Linked DNA regions of Homo sapiens: region 2 is linked to region 1. Evidence: fine-mapped expression QTL. A gene starts in region 1. The other region holds a variant in brackets. All regions are shown on one strand. Distances are from middle to middle. Region 1 holds the start of KDM3A (lysine demethylase 3A). Region 2 overlaps RNF103-CHMP3 (RNF103-CHMP3 readthrough).

What was found. PIP is the estimated chance that this variant, and not a neighbour inherited with it, causes the effect. A credible set is the group of variants that fine-mapping cannot tell apart.
Region 2: its variant is the best candidate, but not a certain one, in a credible set for the expression of KDM3A in whole blood (INTERVAL, PIP 0.58).

What each region holds. Positions count from the first base shown.
Region 1 is chr2:86,439,268-86,444,267 of GRCh38, forward strand. It overlaps KDM3A (lysine demethylase 3A), which reads left to right and starts at 2,104. Exons shown (of 26, transcript NM_018433.6): 1 at 2,104-2,177; 2 at 2,751-2,966. The coding sequence starts at 2,781. RefSeq lists enhancers at 1,173-1,716, 1,538-1,737, 1,818-1,897, 2,888-2,947 and silencers at 2,028-2,417, 2,638-2,687.
Region 2 is chr2:86,547,766-86,552,765 of GRCh38, forward strand. The region is part of intron 3 of RNF103-CHMP3 (RNF103-CHMP3 readthrough); the gene reads right to left. The region is part of intron 1 of CHMP3 (charged multivesicular body protein 3); the gene reads right to left. Among named protein-coding and RNA genes, the nearest start is that of CHMP3-AS1, 12 kb to the right of the region's middle. RefSeq lists an enhancer at 4,954-5,000. The variant C/T (reference allele first, on the strand shown) is at 3,077.

The DNA.
Region 1 (5,000 bases):
GTAATTTTCTAATCTTGAAGTATCTTTGCATTCATATAACACTAATTAATCATATCAATTACCTAAAAAAAATGCTGCTGGATTTAATTTGCTGGTATTTTATAAAAGAATTTCCCATCTATGTTCCTAAGTATAATTGAACCATAGTTTTTCTTTCTTATACTCGCCCAGTTCAGAATTTGTGAAACGGTTTTATAACTTTTATAAAATGCATTGGATATCTTTCCATCTTTTCTAAGCTCTGAAATAATGAATTCAACATAGAAAGTATATGTTCCTTCAGGTTCAATAGAATTTTTCCCTTGAGTTGTTTTTCAAATTAATATTTAATTACATAATCTAAGTTCTCCATATCTTCCCTTATATTTTACATTTGAGTTGCATATTTCTGAGATATTTATGTCTTCTACTCTGAAAACAAATTGTCAAATTTGTAAAATTTCTCATCGTTCATAGCGTCACCTTAGGATAGGCCATGTTTTTAGATTCATAACAGTTCAGGAGACCATACTGTCTTCATGGACTTTATCTTTAATATAAAATCCTTTCTCTTTTGATACTTTTAATTGTATTAATATTGCTATACTGCTTTCATTTGGCTACCATTTGATTAAATATTTTAGCCCAGTATTTTCAAGCTTCCTGTTTTGTAAGCATTTGCTTATGGTCAATTTATAGCTGGATTGTCCTTTTATTCCCAACTGTCTTTTAAAACTTGTGAGTGAAATTAACCCATTTACATTTATTGTAAATACTGATGTTTGGACTTTTCACATGAAAAACATTTTTACCATATGTTCTGGTTTCTTTTGCTTATCTCGTTCCCATTTCTGCCTTCTTTCAGCTGGATAGGTTTTTTCTTCTCATTTAGCAGCCCCCTTCCTTTAAATGGTCTACAGATTATAAATCCAATTTAATTCTTGTTACTAACTTTAAAAACTTAAAATCACATTCAGAATATGTATATTGAAAATCAACATCCAGAGTTGATTTGCATCTATAATCCCTTATATGTTTCCAAACATTCTCTGATTATACGTTTCCACGCTTGTAAAATGGGAGGCATGAGTTCTTCTTAAGGATTAAATGTGATGTAATGTCAAACACTAGCCTTTATGAACATATCTTCAATTTCTTCATTCCATTTCTTTTTCATTCAATCAAAATACTTCAGGTCCAGAGCACACAATCACCTCTAAACTCCTTTGTCCTTCAAAGTCACCTTCTCTTTCATCTCTTCCATCATTCATTATGGCCTTCAACTACTTTAAATTTCTTTGTAAGTATCTGAATACCTTCTCAATCCCACTTTGGAGAAAAAAAAATCTCATTATACATTGTATTTAAAGGTCTCTTTTGCTCTAAATTTAATGAACGTCATTATCCAGTAACTCCACGCCTTTCTTCATTTATCCTTCAAAATGGCGGACTTTAGACGTTCCACGATCAGTACCACGTGCGCCTGCGCCTCCCGCAGCCATTTCGCCCAGCAGCCTAAGCTCGGCGAGGCGCCTGCGCACGAGCCTCCAGAGCACTATCGCTCCTCCCTCTAGCTGAGTACGCCTGAAACCGCACGTTCTCTTCCCTGCCCTCCCCCGCTAACCCTGCACCGCCCTCACCCTTTCCTGTGAGATTCTTCCGCCAAGTGGAAGGCTCATCTTCGGTCGACAGCCTACGCGGTTGAAGAACAATCCAGTAGGCACTTATAGCTCAGGGTCTCGCCATTCAGTCTTATCTATGCGCCACAGCAATTTTCCTCCGGGCCCCAAAGTTGATAACCGATTTCGCGGGACTTTTTTTTTGCATACTGTGAGGCAACAAATGGAAAGAATAGGCCTATGGCGGAGGGATCACTCGCTTATTCTCTGTGTACTTTAACCTAATGGGGGTCGCCCGGGAGTCGGAAGGGGGAGGGGAAAGGGAGGAGGCAGCCAAGGAATTGTTTTTTTCTCTGGCCCCGCCCTCGCCCGGGGGGCCAATGGTGATGATCTGTTTCCCCCGGAGCCTCGCCCAGCTCCTGTGTTTCAGCCAATGAGCGGCGGAAGCGGCTCCGAGGGGGGCGGGTCCGGGAGGCTGTGCGTGTCTTGTGAGAGCTCTTGAACCAAGTCAGCGCTGGAGTCGGCTAGGCGGCTGGAAACGGCGGCTGCCGCCGGTGACTCAGGGAGGCGGGAGGCGGGGTAAGAGCGCCGCGGCCTCGGCTGCGGGGAGAGGGGAGAGAAAGGTGAAAGCGCCGAGCGCGCGGCCCCGTCGCCCGTTGGCAGCGGCGCAGGCCCGGGAGACGGGCGCCCGGGGTTCGGGGCCGGGGAGCTGGGCGCCGGGGCGGGGCGGCGGGGCAAGTGCGGAATCGCGGGCTCGCCCACCCTCCCCCGTGGGGCCGCCCGGGGCGGGGACCCAGCCGCCCGGGACCGGCTCTCTGCACCAGGGGCCTTTTCTTTTCGGGGCTGGGGGCTGAGCACTTTCAAATCCACTCGAGCCGCAGATAATTTTTCCCTCACTCCCTCTGCGGTTGCGTTTGAGCTGTTAGAAAAGCCAAACTTGGGAGAGCGAGGGTCACGCGGCGCTGGGGCCCGGGTGTGTGGCGGGGGAGGGCGGCGGGGGGCGGGAGGGCGCAGGAGGGGGGCTCGGTGCGGGTCCGCCCGGGGCCGCGTCCTCGCGCGGGTTCGGCGCCCTCCGCCCGCCCTCCCTGCTGTCTCCGCCCGGCCCCCTCCCACCGGCCGCCCCCGTCGCATTTTGTTTTTGTGTTTTTGCAGGGAGGAGCTCTTCCTGCAGGCGTGGAAACCATGGTGCTCACGCTCGGAGAAAGTTGGCCGGTATTGGTGGGGAGGAGGTTTCTCAGTCTGTCCGCAGCCGACGGCAGCGATGGCAGCCACGACAGCTGGGACGTGGAGCGCGTCGCCGAGTGGCCCTGGCTCTCCGGGACCATTCGAGCTGTTTCCCACACCGACGTTACCAAGAAGGATCTGAAGGTACAGGCGGCTCCGGGCCTCTGCCACCGGACGTTTCGCAGTTACCGTGGTAACGCGACCATCGGTTCCCTCCTTCCGTTTTCTGAAAACGGAGACCAGAAAGTTGGCATATGATCTGAAGGTGCAGGAAGCTAGATCTTGAAAGTCTTTGGAATGGTTGTATAGAGCCGAGTTGTGTTTGGCCCACAGCTCCTGGCTGCCTGGCTTTAATAATGGGCTTAGGGTTGTTCAGACACGCTTCATTAATGCCGGTGCTGTGTCCCACCAGGACTGTCTCATCTTTACTGCAGAGGAGGAGGAGTATTTTTGTTAGCGTTAGGTAGGGCCTGTAAGTGACGTTTGGAGTCATTAAGAATTGAAGGTTAGTGCTTGGAAGTACTTTCAGCTGGTTTTGTTTGTTTGTTCCTGTTAATTTATTCACTCAACTTTTAAAAAAACTTTCAGACTTGTTAAAAATGAAGTGAGTGTAGAGGGAGGAGCTTAAGTTCTGTTTGGCGTATTAGGATGGGTGTTTGTCCGTATATGGTGGGTCAGGGCAGGAGTGGGTTCCTGGTTGTCTGTGATGAGCCGGTGGGTGGGTGTGGGATATGACCATATATGGAGGGATGGGGTGGAGCTGTCCCATATATGGCATATTGGAGGACTGGCTTAGAAATACTGCACTTGGACGCATGAGGGGAGGGAGAGAATTGGGAACAAGTGCGGCCAGTGATTTTTTTTTAAATCATTATGACACTCAGAACCTTTTTCTGTTAGATCTTTTCAAAGACAGATGAATTCTGATTGTGCTCCCTAATAGAAGTATTGATGTGAAAGGATTGTCTGGGAACAAGCAGTGAGGAAGCCATTGTACCAACAAAGACTCCTTTGTGCGAAAATAACTGAAAAAAGGTTCCTAACAAAGACTCCAAAGTGGTGATAACTTGAAGGAAGCTTGTCAGAACAGAAGATATTTCCACCCTGCCTAGTAGATGTGTTTCAGAATCTTCACTTGGCCATCATCTTTGCTTTTTCTTAAACTATGTTCAAATAAAGGCAGCAAGTTTTAGCATTGGCAGTTGATTATATGTTGATTTCTGAAACACTGTTCATTTGAACACTTTCAGGGTGACAGTGTATGCCCAAACTGGTATTTATCTGCAAAGAGTTGTAGGAAAGGGGTATGCTGTTAGGCATGTTTTAAAGCTTCAGTGTTGTGCCTTGTCTCTTGTTGAAAAGGAGGAGTGACCGAAGAGCATTTAACCATGTGGCAAGCACTTCACAACTATGATCTCGTTTAATCCTTACAGCAGTTCTTGGGGGTAGGTACTAATATTGCCCCCATTTTATGGATGAAACTACTGTGCCTGAGGGACGTTAAGCATCTTGCCAAGGACACATACGTAGGAATTGACATAGCCTGTATTCTGTCAAACCCAGGAAGTTTTACTCCAGAAGCTGCCCTCTTAACCATCAGGCCAGTGATCAAGAGCTATGCCACAGCAGAGCTCCTGTCATAGGCTGTGAGGTTTGGTTTTTTCCTGCATTCGGCTCATTCTCCTGCCAAATCAGGTTTTGATGTTTATAGAGATAATATATTGTGGTGCAAGAATGGCCAACCTTTTTGCTTTGGGCTTATAACCTTTCTGTAAGCTGGGCTTTGTGTACTAGATTTCAGTCGTGCTTGTTGTGGTTTATTTCGCCTGCCAAATAAAATTTTCTCTAGTGCATTTGTTTTTATGTGATTTGAATGGAAACAAGATTTTATTTAAACTTTCCAGTCTTTAGTTCTTTGGCAGATGTTGAGAGACTAGGCGTTCCCTTCCCTTCTGTAGCAGCAATTGAGGACCTGTTGGGTTAGGCAGGCAATCTAGGAGGAACTTCACATGTATATATTTTTTAAATCTCCTCCCTCCGCCCCCATCCTTTGAGGAGGTGGTGATATCTTCATTTTCAGAATGAGGAAATAGATTTAGGAAAAGGAATCTTGTCCAGATTTGCATAATTAGCTGCGGAGGGAGGCTGCGAATCCAGATTGGGCCCAGTGTCTTCTCC
Region 2 (5,000 bases), 110 kb after region 1:
CCAATAGGATTTCAGTAGTAAATGAGGCCCTTATAATTAAGTAAAACAGAACATAACGTGTACAGAATAAAAAATCAACTAGTAAATTAGACAATATATTTGAAAACCACAAGGAACCTATAGAAAGAGTTTCACACTACCAAAATATTATCCTTTATTCAAATTCATTCACAGAGGTCTATTATATGCGAAACTAGGCAAAGGAAACTAACACCATTAAGAGGTTATTTTCCATGAACAATGCTGAGAGACAGCTTAAGACAAATAGAAAACAAAATGATTGAATTCCTGTTCCATCCTTCACTGAAATTCATTCTAGGTGGACTGAAGACATATGGAATGCAAAACTGTGGTGTTTTAAGAAGACAGTATAGGAGAATACATTTATGATTTCAGGTTAGAGGAGGAGTTCTCTTTTTTTTTTTTTTTTTTTTTAGTATTTATTGATCATTCTTGGGTGTTTCTCAAAGAGGGGGATGTGGCAGGGTCATAGGATAATAGTGGAGAGAAGGTCAGCAGATAAACACGTGAACAAAGGTCTCTGGTTTTCCTAGGCAGAGGTTCCTGCGGCCTTCCGCAGTATTTGTGTCCCTGGGTACGTGAGATTAGGGAGTGGAGATGACTCTTAATGAGCATGCTGCCTTCAAGCATCTGTTTAACAAAGCACATCTTGCACCACCCTTAATCCATTTAACCCTGAGTTGACACAGCACATGTTTCAGAGAGCACGGGGTTGGGGGTAAGGTTATAGATTAACAGCATCCCAAGGCAGAAGAATTTTTCTTAGTACAGAACAAAATGGTGTCTCCTATGTCTCCTTCTTTCTACACAGACACAGTAACCATCTGATCTGTCTTTCTTTTCCCCACATTTCCCCCTTTTCTTTTCAACAAAACCGCCATCGTCATCATGGCCTGTTCTCGATGGTCACTGTCTCTTCGGAGCTATTGGGTACACTTCCCAGATGGGGTGGCCGGGCAGAGGCACTCCTCACTTCCCAGACGGGGCAGCCGGGCAGAGGTGCTCCTCACCTCCCAGACGGGGCGGCCGGGCAGAGGCGCACCTCACTTCCCAGATGGGGTGGTGGCCGGGCAGAGGCGCTCCTCACATCCCAGACGATGGGCAGCCGGGCAGAGGTGCTCCCCACCTCCCAGATGATGGGCCGGGCAGAGGTGCTCCCCACCTCCCAGATGATGGGCAGCTGGGCAGAGGCGCTCCTAGCCTCCCAGATGGGGCGGCCAGGCAGAGGCGCTCCCCACCTCCCAGATGAAGGGCAGCCGGGCAGAGGCGCCCCCCACTTCCCAGACGGGGTGGCGGCCGGGCAGAGACGCCCCTCACCTCCCAGACGGGGCGGCCGGGAAGAGGCGCCCCTCACGTCCCAGACGGGGCGGCCGGGCAGAGGCGCCCACTTCCCAGACTGGGCAGCCGGGCAGAGGCGCTCCTCGCCTCCCAGACAGGGCGGCCGGGCAGAGGCGCTCCTCGCCTCCCAGACGGGGCGGCAGGGCAGAGGCGCTCCTCGCCTCCCAGACGGGGCGGCCGGGCAGAGGCATTTCTCACTTCCCAGATGATGGGCGGCCGGGCAGAGACGCTCCTCACTTCCCAGATGGGGTGGCGGCTGGGCAGAGGCACTCCTCCCTTCCCAGACGGGGCGGCCGGGCAGAGGCGCTCCTCAGTTCCCAGATGGGGTGGCCGGGCAGAGGCGCTCCTCACTTCCCAGACGGGGCGGCCGGGCAGAGGCGCTCCTCACTTCCCAGACAGGGCGGCCAGGCAGAGGCGCTCCTCACTTCCCAGATGGGGTTGCAGTCAGGCAGAGACGCCCCTCCCCTCCCAGAAGGGTCGGCCGGGAAGAGGCACTCCTCACCTCCCAGACGGGGCGGCCGGGCAGAGGCGCCCCTCACTTCCCAGATGGGGTGGCGGCCGGGCAGAGACGCCCCTCACCTCCCAGATGGGGCGGCCGGGCAGAGGCACCCACTTCGCAGACGGGGCGGCCAGGCAGAGGCGCTCCTCGCCTCCCAGACGGGGCGGCCGGGCAGAGGTGCTCCTCGCCTCCCAGGCGGGGTGGCCGGGAAGAGGCGCTCCTCGCCTCCCAGATGGGGCAGCCGGGCAGAGGCGCTCCTCGCCTCCCAGACGGGGCGGCCGGGCAGAGGCGCTTCTCACTTCCCAGACAATGGGCGGCTGGGCTGATACGCTCCTCACTTCCCAGACGGGGTGGCGGCCGGGCAGAGGCTGTAATCTTAGCACTTTGGGAGGCCAAGGCAGGTGGCTGGAAGGTGGAGGTTGCAGCGAGCTGAGATCACGCCACTGCACTCCAGCCTGGGCAACATTGAGCATTGAGTGAGTGAGACTCCGTCTGCAATCCCAGCACCCCGGGAGGCCACGACGGGCAGACCACTTGAGGTCAGGAGCCGGAGACCAGCCAGGTCAACAGGGCAAAACCCCGTCTCCTCCAAAAATGCAAAAACCAGTCAGGCGTGGCGGCGCACGCCCGCAATCCCAGGCACTTGGCAGGCCGAGGTAGGAGAACCACGGGAGCCCGGGGCAGGGAGGCTGCAGCGAGCCGAGACCACGGCAGTACAGTCCAGCCTCGGCAACAGAGGGAGACGGAGACGGAGAGGAGAGGGAGAGAGGGAGAGAGGGGGAGAGGGAGAAAGGGAGAGGGAGAAAGGGAGAGGGAGAAAGGGAGAGGGAGAGAGAGAGGGGAGTTCTTAAACAAGACACAAAGGCAATAACCACTAAAAGGAAAAGGCTTCTTATATTTATCTATATTGAAATTAAGAATTTTTATTCATCATGACTCCATTAAGAAAGTAAAATGTTACAAACTGGGAGATATATTCGTAATCATATAAATGGTAATAAATAAAAGGCATTTACTTATTTTTTAAGAATGGAATTCTCAATATTGTACAGTCAGCCCACTATATCCATGGGTTCTACATGTGTGGATTCAACCAACTACAGCTCAAAAATATTTAAAAAAACAAATGGTTGGCTGCATCTGTATGGAACATGTAGACTTTTCCCATCATTATTCCCTAAATACAGTGTAACAACTATTTACAGAGCATTTACATTG[C/T]ATTAGGTATTATAAGTAATCTAGAGATTAAAGTACACAGGAGGATGTACATACGTTATATGCAATTACCTTTTTCTTTTTAAATCAAGTACTTCAGCATCCATGGATTTTGGTATGGGCGGAGGGACCCTGGAACCAATCCTCCTCAGATACCGAGAAATGACTACATATGAAAATCTGCAGGATAATTTAAGTTTCTGAATGATATTGTCTTCTTCCAAAGAGGAATTACATTTGCTTCTGGCAAACATATAGCTTAAGTGTCCTGGCAATTGGTTCTTAACTAATCTTAATTAATCCTATCAGGGGATAGAGATTATTTGAAACTGGTCTTCAGTCTTTGTGAAAGCCAGTCTACTTCCAGGTCACTATTATTGCTAAGGGGTATTCTTTCAGAGTCCCAACCACAAGCCCTGAATATCTGCTTATGAACTCCAATTTTTTTTTTTTTTTTGAGATGGAGTCTCTCTCTGTCACCCATCTCGGCTCACTGCAACCTCTGCCTCCCAGGTTCAAGCAATTCTCCTGCCTCAGCCTCCCAAGTAGCTGGGACTATAGATGCCTGCCACCACGCCCAGCTACTTTTTGTATTCTTAGTAGGCACGGGGTTTCACCATGTTGGCCAGGCTGGTCTCAAACAACTGACCTCAGGGGATCTGCCCACCTCGGCCTCCCAAAGTGCTGGGATTACAGGTGTGAGCCACCATGCCCGGCCATGAACTCCAATTTTTATACTCCCCAACCACAGGGTTTGTCAAAAACTCTACTCAAATTCTATTTGTCACCCACTGCATTAGGAATTAGAGGATCTCTTTAGGGGGAAGGTAGTCCCAAATGATTGGGTTCATGTAACTGAGCTTCCCTCTTTGCTGAGATCTTGATTTTGCAATTTCTCACTGCCCTGGTAGCTTTCAGTGATTTCAAATAGTTACACTTTTTGTTTAGCTCTTTTAGTTATTTTTGGCAAAGGGTTGGTTCAAAGCAACTTAGTCTATAAACACCTTCATGATTTTTTAAAGAACATGTTTCCCAGTTCTGTTCCATAAAAAGGCTTAGAAGCAGGGATACTCGAATAGCAAGAAGCATCAGGCTCACTCAAATTTTGGTATCTAAATAGCATTCCCGCTAAAAGAAACCACTGCATCTTGGAGAAATGGCCGATTTCAGGTCTCAGGCTAGGAATTCACAAATCATACCAGGATATATGCTAGAAAACAAGGAAGTATTCAAAGATTAGTAAAGTTATGCTAAAAGCAGATAGGAACTGGCTTGAAATAGCTCCCACTGACCAAATGTATAAGTTTTTCAGTATCAAACAGAATAATGGTTAGAACTATAACACACTAAATATATAAAAATCCATGAGTCCAAAACGGTGCTTCTGAGAGGAACGGGTGGAGAGAGAATGCAGTTGATACCACCGGATATTATTATACCAATTCTTTATTCTAAATATTAGCAATTAAATAAAGAGCATTAAGCACTTATCCTGCATTTTCAATAGAAACTCTATGTCAAGGTAACCAAATAGCCCCAGCTAATAAGGGACAGATCTTTATAGAACACTGCCAGCTAAAAATGAAAAAGAAATCAGAGAATTAGAAAAATCACCACTCTAAAAACCCTTATAGAATAGCTGATTCAGGAAAGGGACACCTATAAATGTTAATGTGTCTAAGTGAAGGATTACTGAAGAGCTGGACATTCACATGGTGCTAAAATATCACCCCTCAGGTTAGTTACTAGCATAAAAAGGAAAACATAATGTAAAGATCTGGTGTGTCACTACCTCAACCAGGTGGCCAAAGTTATTAGCATCATTAATTACAAGACAGACATTATATGCCTCCTGATGTGATACACTATGAATCACACAGGTTACCTGTGAGGCATTCTTGCTAAAATTGTTTAACCTGGATCTTAT